3 linked regions of the Homo sapiens genome follow. The protein of the gene in region 1 purifies or fractionates together with the protein of each later gene. This does not show direct contact. Each region holds a gene or a part of one and is shown in the gene's direction. Other genes may lie near its edges. The genes, in order: SNAP25, TTYH1 and STX1B.

The links.
Region 2: the proteins of SNAP25 (region 1) and TTYH1 purify together in Homo sapiens (co-immunoprecipitation; one study listed by IntAct). This does not show direct contact.
Region 3: the proteins of SNAP25 (region 1) and STX1B purify together in Homo sapiens (co-immunoprecipitation; one study listed by IntAct). This does not show direct contact.

What each region holds. Positions count from the first base shown.
Region 1 is NC_000020.11:10,291,763-10,295,415, forward strand, and holds part of SNAP25 (synaptosomal-associated protein 25), read left to right. Parts: intron 1-1,119; coding exon of another isoform or gene 1,120-1,237; intron 1,238-1,398; coding exon 1,399-1,516; intron 1,517-3,653.
Region 2 is NC_000019.10:54,428,893-54,432,545, forward strand, and holds part of TTYH1 (protein tweety homolog 1), read left to right. Parts: intron 1-414; coding exon 415-487; intron 488-989; coding exon 990-1,065; intron 1,066-1,657; coding exon 1,658-1,713; intron 1,714-1,920; coding exon 1,921-2,013; intron 2,014-2,206; coding exon 2,207-2,299; intron 2,300-3,653. UniProt on the Homo sapiens protein: Calcium-independent, swelling-dependent volume-regulated anion channel (VRAC-swell) which plays a pivotal role in the process of regulatory volume decrease (RVD) in the brain through the efflux of anions like chloride and organic osmolytes like glutamate.
Region 3 is NC_000016.10:30,991,048-30,993,641, reverse strand, and holds part of STX1B (syntaxin-1B), read left to right. Parts: intron 1-157; coding exon 158-295; intron 296-401; coding exon 402-512; intron 513-740; coding exon 741-821; 3' UTR 822-2,594. UniProt on the Homo sapiens protein: Potentially involved in docking of synaptic vesicles at presynaptic active zones. May mediate Ca(2+)-regulation of exocytosis acrosomal reaction in sperm.

The sequences.
Region 1 (3,653 bases):
CCAGGAGGCACAGGCATGCATGCATGAAAATACAGATGAAAAGAGGAATGGAAATGTAATTAGGTTTTGTAATTAGCCAGCGAAGACATCCATTGCTGCCTTCCTTTAATGGTCTTTTAAAGCTGTTTTAAAAATCCTTTCATTGAACTTGTAGTTATCTCAATTTGGTGATACAATTCAAAAAAATTAATCAAGTTGGTGTATGTAACCTTGGCAACCTAGAAGTATGATTCATTTTTATGACTATTGATCTATGTACTTAGATACACTAAGGTCAGCTATGCTGGCAGCAGTGACACCATATTGTCCTATGTTCCAATTCATAATCCTACTTCCAAAGAGACATTCATTCTCCCTGCTCTCTGCCTGGGCTTGGAGCATGACCCCCATTATAGACTTGGAAATCAGGGGGCAGAGAAGTGAAATGCCTTCCAAAACATTCATAGCAATTAAGTCATAGGATGATAGAGGAATTGCAATGTTCCAGGACTTACAATGTTGCTGTGTGGATGTTACTCTTTTTTTAAAAAACAGCTTTTACGAATTACATATGCACAATCAAGTGCAGACCATGGCTACCTCTGGCTAGACTGCCACTGCTAGGGGAAGAAAAGACATCCATACCCATTGCTTATGATTGCTGCTGCTGCTGTTGTCTCCAAAGAAGAAAATGGATTCTATTTTCTACCCTTATCTGGTTGAGGATGCTTAAAAACCAAAAGATGGAGATATTTTAAAGTTGAAGCAGATCCTTTCCTTAGTAGCGTTAAACTGGAATGCCTAAAACATAAACTAACACCCTGTTTTTTTTTCTCCTGGATTTCACTGGTGCCTGAGTAAGCGAATATGCTGTGCTGTTTTCCTGGACACTCAGAATCAAACAGGCCTTCCACCCCATCCCATCATGTTGAATTACAAAGTATTTTGAGCATCGTTTGGTTTGTTTCTTTCCACCCATACCTGTGTAGGGCAGCGGTAGCAGTCTTCAACAATGCATCCTCTTGGACAATGCATTGTAATATCTCTCTTTCAAATTCTGTTTCACATAGTCATTTCTCATGTTCTGTTGGAGACCCCCAAAAAATTCATTCCACACTGTCATCCCTTTGTCCTAACCAGAACAACTCGATCGTGTCGAAGAAGGCATGAACCATATCAACCAAGACATGAAGGAGGCTGAGAAAAATTTAAAAGATTTAGGGAAATGCTGTGGCCTTTTCATATGTCCTTGTAACAAGTAGGTACTGGGTACCAGCTCTAATCTGTGGCGTCCAGTTTTCTTTCTTTTTTTTTTTTTCTTTTTTAATGTCAAAGTGAATGTCTGAAGTTTTGTCTTTTTTTCTTTGTCCTTTTCCATCTGCTTCATTCTGTGGGGATAAAATACTTGTGTTTAATCAGAACAACTGGAACGCATTGAGGAAGGGATGGACCAAATCAATAAGGACATGAAAGAAGCAGAAAAGAATTTGACGGACCTAGGAAAATTCTGCGGGCTTTGTGTGTGTCCCTGTAACAAGTAGGTGCTGCCTGCCTGCCTGAAGCTTTGATTTCCCAAGGCCCATCTCCAAGCCTTGACAAGCTCATTCCTGCCAAGCTCATAGGCAGGATGAGCATGTGGCATGCAGAACAGATCAATACCGTCTCCAATGCATTCATCTCATAGCATAGATGATATTAGCAGGAGTTACTGTTGATGCATTAAAAATCAGGCATACTACAGTGAAAGCTTCACTGTCAGCAACTTTTATTGATGAACGTTTCAACATTTTCCAGAAAGTGTACCTTGAGACAGAGGCTAGCCTCAAGAAAGAGGCACCCAGGGAACTTCCTTTTCCCCAACCCCAAGAGTCAAAATTACAGATTTAGAAAAGGCTGCGGGTAAGTTTGGAAGATGAGAAACACATATGCGAAGGTTTGATTTTTTCCAAAATAAAAGAGACAGGTAATTTGGCCCAGGGAAGGATTCTATAAATTAGAGAATATGACAGAGATTCTCCCTTTCTACTGCCCACCAGTTGCCAAATTTTGTCAATAGATGCTGCCACTGCACCCAACACAGAGGCAATGAGCTCTTCAGCAAGAAGTGCTCAAGCCTTACTCAAATTGGACCCATCCCTCCCAAATTTTTCTCCTTGGAAGATCTACCCGTACACTGGCTGAAATGTTGAAATGTGTAGATTTTGCATGCACAACATCACAAAACATTCAACTGTTCTCAAGGTTCTGCAACGCTTTTTTGGAATGTAGCAGAAATGTGACATGTGGTTATAAAGGTTTGCAATGGAAGGAACCTAAAACTGAGGGTTCTGGAAGATTGTCTCATTTGACTAGTGGTGGAAAAAGAAATGCATGAGTGGATTGCCCAACATGCATTTGGAAAATTAAACTCCTTATCCAATCTCCCTCACCCCTCCCACTTCCCCCTTCTAAAAGAAGACTTTTTCCTAAAAGCTCTCCTGATCCTAGCTTTTAGAATAGAAATTGACGTCATTTTTAGCAGATTATATGACCATTCACATCCTTTAAACTTTGAGGCTGATTTAAAATATCCCACTTCCTGTTTAGGAGGGGGAGGGGCTCATATTGCAAAAAAATTAAAAAATTCTGCTTTTTAAAGAGTGATCTACAGTAAAGCCTGATTAACTGGAATCTAGCTAACTGGAAACCTCAGCTGCATGCTCTTGCTCCCTTCCATTTTTAGCAAAAAAGAAACAAAGAAAAAAAATCACATCAGAAATGTAAAATGGTTTTTCTTCCAGGGTAGTTTGCATTGTCTCACTTAGTCTCCATCCTCCTGCAACTTCCACATCTATGAGGACCAAACAATAAGAGTTGATCTTCACAGAAAAGGCCATCAAGCAATCAGTATAAATGATAACCAAGGAAAGATTCAATCAGGTCTTCTACCTTAAGACTTTCAGGCAGGAAAGTGGCTCAGGAGTCTAGCAAAGATATTCACTCATCATCCATGAAACAAAACTTTCCTCCATGGCCCCACTGTTCATTAAGAAAGTCATATAATTCATCAGAAAAAAAAAAAAAAAGCCTCATTACCAAGCATTCCAGTTAGTCAAGATTTGACTGTATATTCCTTTCAGTGGCAACTTGCCCCCAGGTGAGATTTCCATCCATTTCATGATAAATTCCAACAGATACATTTTCCCCCCTTCATCAACTGTGTGTGAAGAAAGGGTGAAGGCAGGGTCCCCTGGGATGGATTCTGATGTTCTAATGAAATGATGGCTCCTACGAATTCCACTTTTGAGTGGTCACTAATTTCCTTAATGCACAAGAGACCCTAAACTAAGCTTCAAAGCTTGACTGAGGTGTTCCCTATTGTGTGTAAATAATGCTTTAAAAACCATGTGTCACAACGCAGTGGCTGGTGGTGCCCTGGACTCTCTGAGGGCTTCGCCCTGTCTCGGCATGTTTCAAGGGACGATGGTAGATGTACGGCAGTGATGTGAGTCTATGTGCAGCATTGTGGGTGCAGTGGTTTGCCTTCTTTCAGAAACGCATACTTCCCACTCCTTTGACTTTGCCAAAGATGGTATAGCAGACATTTGACATAGCAGAAAACATCACAAAGTCCATATAACTTCTTTTAATCTGAGGAGGGAGGAGATGGGGAGTTGGAAAAATAAAAATTAAAA
Region 2 (3,653 bases), on another chromosome or scaffold:
GAGACTTTCAGATTTCAGCCCTGGCACTGTCTCCCATTCTCAGAGGAGACAGGGCAGAGCCAGAGGCTGATCAGGCTGTGGGTGGACTTGGGGGAGCCTTCGGGGGAAGTGAGCCCAGAGGTGAGCAGTCACCGTCCCAGGGTCCTGGAGCTGGGATCCAAGCTGCGACCACCCAGCCCAGGGCCCTGCTCATACCCCACACCCTGCTCATCTGGGCAGGAGCCAGATGTCCAGCTGGACATCAGCAGCCACTGGCCTACCCCCAACCACTGAACTTGTGTTTCCCTAATTCTGATCCTCCAGGCTCCAGAGGTGGGTGGAGGTGGGGGGCGGCTGTGATGGGATTTGGGGTGTGGAAAGAGGCTAGGCTAGGAGATTAAGAACCCCGGGCTGATCCTCCCTCCCCCACTCTAGGATGACAGTCATGAGTCTCCTGGTTCTCGTCCTGAGCTGGGGCTCCATGGGCCTGGAGGCAGCCACGGCCGTGGTGAGTGCCAGGGCCGGGCCATTGGGCTCTGGGACTCAGGGGGCCTGGAGACTTCAACTTCTGGATCTCGGGATGGCATGGCTTAGTAGAGAAAGGAATTGGGGGGCACGATCACAGCTCTGAGGTTTAGGGCTTGTTTCCTGGGGCCTGAGTGGGTACAGATTGGTGTCCTGGACGTTTGAGCTGTAATGGAGGAGGGGCTGGAAACCTGGATTCCTAGGTCTGAGGGAGGAGGGGCTGGGGGTCTGGACTCCTGGGTGTGAGGGAGGAGAAGCTGGGGGCCTGGACTCCTGAGTCTGAGGGAGAAAGGGCTGGAGAGTCTGAACCCCTGAGTCTGAGGGACGAGGGGCCTGGGGCCTGGACTCCTGAGTCTGAGGGAAGAGGGGCTGGGACCTGGACCCCTGGGTGGGGAGGGGAGCTGGGGAGCCAGGCACTGGGTGCTGTGGGAGTGTGGAATCGGGGCAGTTTTGGGTTTGAGCCCCTTTTCTGCTGCCTCACGCAGGGCCTCAGTGACTTCTGCTCCAATCCAGACCCTTATGTTCTGAACCTGACCCAGGAGGAGACAGGGCTCAGCTCAGGTGATTTCCAAGGGCCCGGTGGGTCCGCCGGGTTGGGCAGTGCAGGCCCTGGCTTCCTCAGGCCTCCTCTGTGCCCGGTCCTGCCCAGGGTGGGGTGGGGGTGCAGCCTGCCAGGCGAGACCCAGCCCTCTGGAAGGGAAGCAGGGCTCCTGGCCACTCCCCAGCTCGGAGCCCTCCTGGAGCCCCGCCACCCGCCAGACCCTCATCCCTTCTGCTCCAGCTGGCAGCGCCTCTCCTGGTGGGCTGGAAAAGAGGGCAGGATAAAGATAATGGTGCCAGGAAGAGAGAGGAGGGTCAGGAGAGGGTGCTCCTGGGCGTCAGGAATGGGGAGTTTGGCCCCCTGGAGAAAACTGGGGAGCACCATTTAGTCAGGGGTTCCCAGGGAGTATAGGGTTGCCCACCAGCGCCTGCTCTGGCTGTGGCAGGAGCAGAAGGGACGCGGGGCTGGCGGGTCTCTGAAGGTAAGGCCATCGGGCTCCAGGGCTGGGCTGAGGCCCCTAACCCTGCTAACCCCCCAGTGCCCGGCCTTCCCCCGGGAGATCCCTGGGGGCCCAGGCTCATGGCCTCCTCCCCTCTCCTCCTCCCACTTCAGACATCCTGAGCTATTATCTCCTCTGCAACCGGGCCGTCTCCAACCCCTTCCAACAGGTTAGGGCTGCGGGCAGGGGAAACGGGTGTTGAGGGAGCCAGAAATCTGGACTCTGAAGGGAGGGGGCGGGGCTGGGGCTGGGGCCTGGACTCCTGGGTTCCGGGGAGGATGCAGGCCAGGGGCCCGAGTGCTGTGTCCGGAGGAGAGGAGAGAGGGCCGGGGGCGTATACTCCTGGGTCCTCCTCCCTCCCTTTCTCTTTCTGCAGAGGCTGACTCTGTCCCAGCGAGCTCTGGCCAACATCCACTCCCAGCTGCTGGGCCTGGAGCGAGAAGCTGTGCCTCAGTTCCCTTCAGCGCAGGTCGGTGGGTGGGCGCTCCCCAGACACGCGGACCCCACGGGGAAGGCGGACGGGGCGGGATGGAGCTGTGGGGCGTAGGCGGGGCTGCAGAGCTAGGCGGGGCCTTGGGTTGTGGGCGGGGACGCAGGGCGGGGCCAGGGCGATGGGCGGGCCTGAAGAGTTCGTGGGAAAACGACCCCTCCTCGCCCCGCAGAAGCCTCTGCTGTCCTTGGAGGAGACTCTGAATGTGACAGAAGGAAATTTCCACCAGTTGGTGGCACTGCTACACTGCCGCAGCCTGCACAAGGTGAAGCCCCTCCCCTCCCAATTTCTTCTCCCACGGGGGGCCTCTGTCTCGACCCACAGAACTACCTCCTCCTTCTCCTTGGACCCCTGCCATTGCGCCTGAGGATATCTCTGTATCCTCTGTTTATATGATTTATCTGTCCTATATCTATTCTCTACCTATTTATAACCTGTCGTCTACCTACCTATCAAGCATTATCCATATTCCTTCCCTCCTCCCTCCCTTTCCCCCCAACTCCCGCACTCCCCGCTGGGTCCCCATCCCACCCTCCCCGTCCCTTCCTGCCACCTTTTCCTTCCTTGTCTTCTCTCCTCTCTCCGTCCTCCTGCCTCTCCCTCCCTCCTAGAGGCTGCCGCTTAGTGAGTTCTGGAGCAAGACTGCCTGGGTTCCAGTCCTACCTCCTGACCAAGGGCAAGTCACCTAACTTCTCTGTACCTCAGTTAGTTCCCTCACTTATAAACCTGGGATTGCAAGAGTGGGCACCTGTCCAGCTCCCCTGCGGCTTGTGCTGTTCATACACTGGACAGGCAGGGGTGGGCAGGGTGCCCAGGAGGAAAGATATCTGGTGTCCTGCAGGCTCCAGTTTGGGCTCTGCCGCAGGCTGCACGGCCATAGGCAGGTGAGCGTGGCTGACTCTGCTTCCCACCCGTACCGTGAGGAAGGACGAGTTTTTTTTGTTTGTTTTTTTTTCACTGGATGGCTGTGAGGATTGAAAAAAAAAATCCCCTTATAAAACAGTAGGAGCTGGCCGGGCGCGGAGGCTCACACCTGTAATCCCAGCACTTTGGGAGGCCCAGGCGGGTGGATCACCTGAGGTCAGGAGTTCAAGACCAGTCTGGCCAACATGGTGATACCCCGTCTCTACTAAAAATAGAAAAAGTTAGCCGGGCATGGTGGTGGGCGCCTATAATCCCAACTACTCGGGAGGCTGAGGCAGGAGAATCGCTTGAATCCACGAGGCAGAGGTTGCAGTGAGCCAAGATTGTGCCACTGCACTCCAGCCTGGGCAACAAGAGCGAAACTCTGTCACAAACAAACAAACAAAACCAGTAAGAGCTGTTCTAAAACACACACCCGAGGATGCCTTTCCCCGGCCAGTCTTCCCATCAAAGACCTCACATGTGCATAGCTTCACCAAGTACCTGACCCTGTTGCATTTCACAGGTGGTAACTCATCGATGCCTCATAACAATGCTATGAAGAAGGAACTATGATTATCCCACCTAACAGGTTAGAAGATGAGGAGCAGAGTTGAGGGACCTTCCCAAGGTCACACGGCCAGCCAGCCCATGCACACTGAGGAGAGAGGGACCTTCCGGAGGGCCCCGCCCTCTGCCCCCCACAGCCAGGCAGT
Region 3 (2,594 bases), on another chromosome or scaffold:
ATTTTCTAGGTGGGGAAACTGAGGCCAAGAGCAGGTGAATAATGTGCCTAAGGTTTCAGCTAGTAAATGACACCGGATTTGACCCTGGCCACTCCACTGCGGTGGAGGCGCTCATGGCGGAGAAGGGTGATTGTAGCTCTCTCCCTCGTCACCCTAGATCAAAATGGACTCACAGATGACGAAGCAGGCGCTGAATGAGATTGAGACGAGGCACAATGAGATCATCAAGCTGGAGACCAGCATCCGCGAGCTGCACGATATGTTTGTGGACATGGCCATGCTCGTAGAGAGCCAGGTACTGGCTCTGCCACCCATGCCACTCTGGGAGCCTCCCTGGGCCTGAGGTCCCCTCTTCCAGCCCAGCCCCCATCCCTCCCTGTGCATGTCTCCTCTGTCTGCAGGGAGAGATGATTGACCGCATCGAGTACAACGTGGAACATTCTGTGGACTACGTGGAGCGAGCTGTGTCTGACACCAAGAAAGCAGTGAAATATCAGAGCAAGGCCCGGAGGGTGAGCGGGGCAGGCGGCCTGGGGGTAGGCGGGGGAGCCCAAGGCTGAGCCCGGGCTGAGGTGAGTGATGGCAGCGGGCGGGAGGCCTTATCTCTGGCTCTGACCTCTTCCTGTTTCTGTTTTCTCTCCCCTCTTCTCCCTGCCACCCTCTGCCCTGTCTGTCCCTGCATCTGTCCGTGTGTCGATCTCTCTCACTGTCTGCCTGTCTCACTCCTCTTTCTGCTGCAGAAGAAAATCATGATCATCATTTGCTGTGTGGTGCTGGGGGTGGTCTTGGCGTCATCCATTGGGGGGACGCTGGGCTTGTAGGCCCCCCCCACCCTTCTCTCTCCCAGACCCTTCCCCCACCACATCGGGAGCAATACCCCCACCACCCCTTTCACTCCATCCCCTGCTCCAGGCTCACTCCCAAAACAGACCCAGGCAGCCCCACCCCCACGGCAGACCCTGGTGTCCCTGGACCTCACCGGGCCATGGACCCCCCCCCCGTCCCCGCACGTAGATCGCAGCAGGCGTGATTACACATGCACACCAACATGCATGCCGCCGGCACATGCTCGAGACGTGTGGACACCCCAGCGTGCGTGTGCGTGTGATGTGTGTGATGCACCAGAGCACCCCCTCCACCCCCACCTTGGGTGTGTGTGCGTGGTCTGAGCTTCCCCCTTCACCGGGGCTGTTGTGTAGACTGCAGCCAAGTGTAACACAGCAGTCCATCACGCCCTCTCTGTCCTCTGTGAACAGTGTGTGTGCGTGCGTGAGACCACAGATCTGTGGACACACCATTTGTGTACGTGGAATTTTGTGTTTCAGTGTTTGAACCTAATGCAACAGCAACAAAGCCACTGATACCTGAGCCCTTTGTGTCTGCTACAAACCAGGCAGGTGGTGTGTGTGGACTCACACTCACATTCTCAGAGGATCCAGGGAGGCCCAGGTACACACAGGCCATGGCAGACACCCCATGTCTTTGTTACCCCAGGGGCTGTGGCATGTCCCAGGAGGGTGTGCATGTGTGTGTGTGTGTGTGTGTGTGTGTCCAGGATGTGCCTGAAGTATTGATAGGTCTTCTCAGATAGAGCCCTCCACACTGTGGACTGGACACCTGTTTTGGGAGGGCACAGAAATGTGTATTTCTTGCTACCTAGAATGCAGCTGTGTGTGTGTGGCGTGCGTGTGTATGCACGTGTGTGTGTGTGTTAGGGGCTCTCTACATGGTGTGCTTTTTAATTTTTTTTTGTTTTTTGTTTTTTGTTTTTTTCGAGACGGAGTCTTGCTCTGTCACCCAGGCTGGAGTGCAGTGGCGCAATCTCAGCTCACTGCAACCTGTGCCTCCCTGACGCAAGCGATTCTCATGCCTCAGCCTCCCAAGTAGCTGGGACTACAGGCGCCTGCCACCACGCCTGGCTAATTTTAGAATTTTAGTAGAGATGAGGTTTTGACATGTTGGCCAGGCTGGTCTCGAACTCCTGACCTCAGGTGATCCGCCCACTTTGGCCTCCCTAAGTGCTGGCATTACAGGCCTGAGCCACCACGCCTGGCCTACATGATGTGTTTCTGTCCTGCCTGACCTACATGGTGTGTTTCTGCCCTGCGTATTACACACACACACACACACGTGCGTGCACACACACTTCTAAGGACGTGGCCCCATCTGGCTTTGTCTCTCCAGTTGTCCTTGCCCTGCCCCCCTCCCCAGAGGTGCTGCCCAGTGCTGGTGTGGCCACACACGGCTACATCATTGTGCAGGCAGAGCTCCCTGCCTGCCCAGCCTCAGGGCTCTGCATGCTCACACCTAGATCCTCATCTTCCTCCATGTCTCTGCCCAGCATAGCCCCGAGCCCCTGGAAGCTGGTACCCCTCAGTGTGCTCACACGTGGCAAGGCCGAGGTGGCCCCAGGCAGGGGCCATACCAGGCACAAACCATGCACGCTGGCATGGGTGCGGGGATCACACGAATGCCTCCTGGAAGGAAAGGGCTACTTGTAGGAATGTTACTGATGAGGCAAGATGCCAAGGACTTCCCTGCAGGGATCAAAGATCAGGACACGACCCCTTCCTCACACACCCACCTCAGACCTG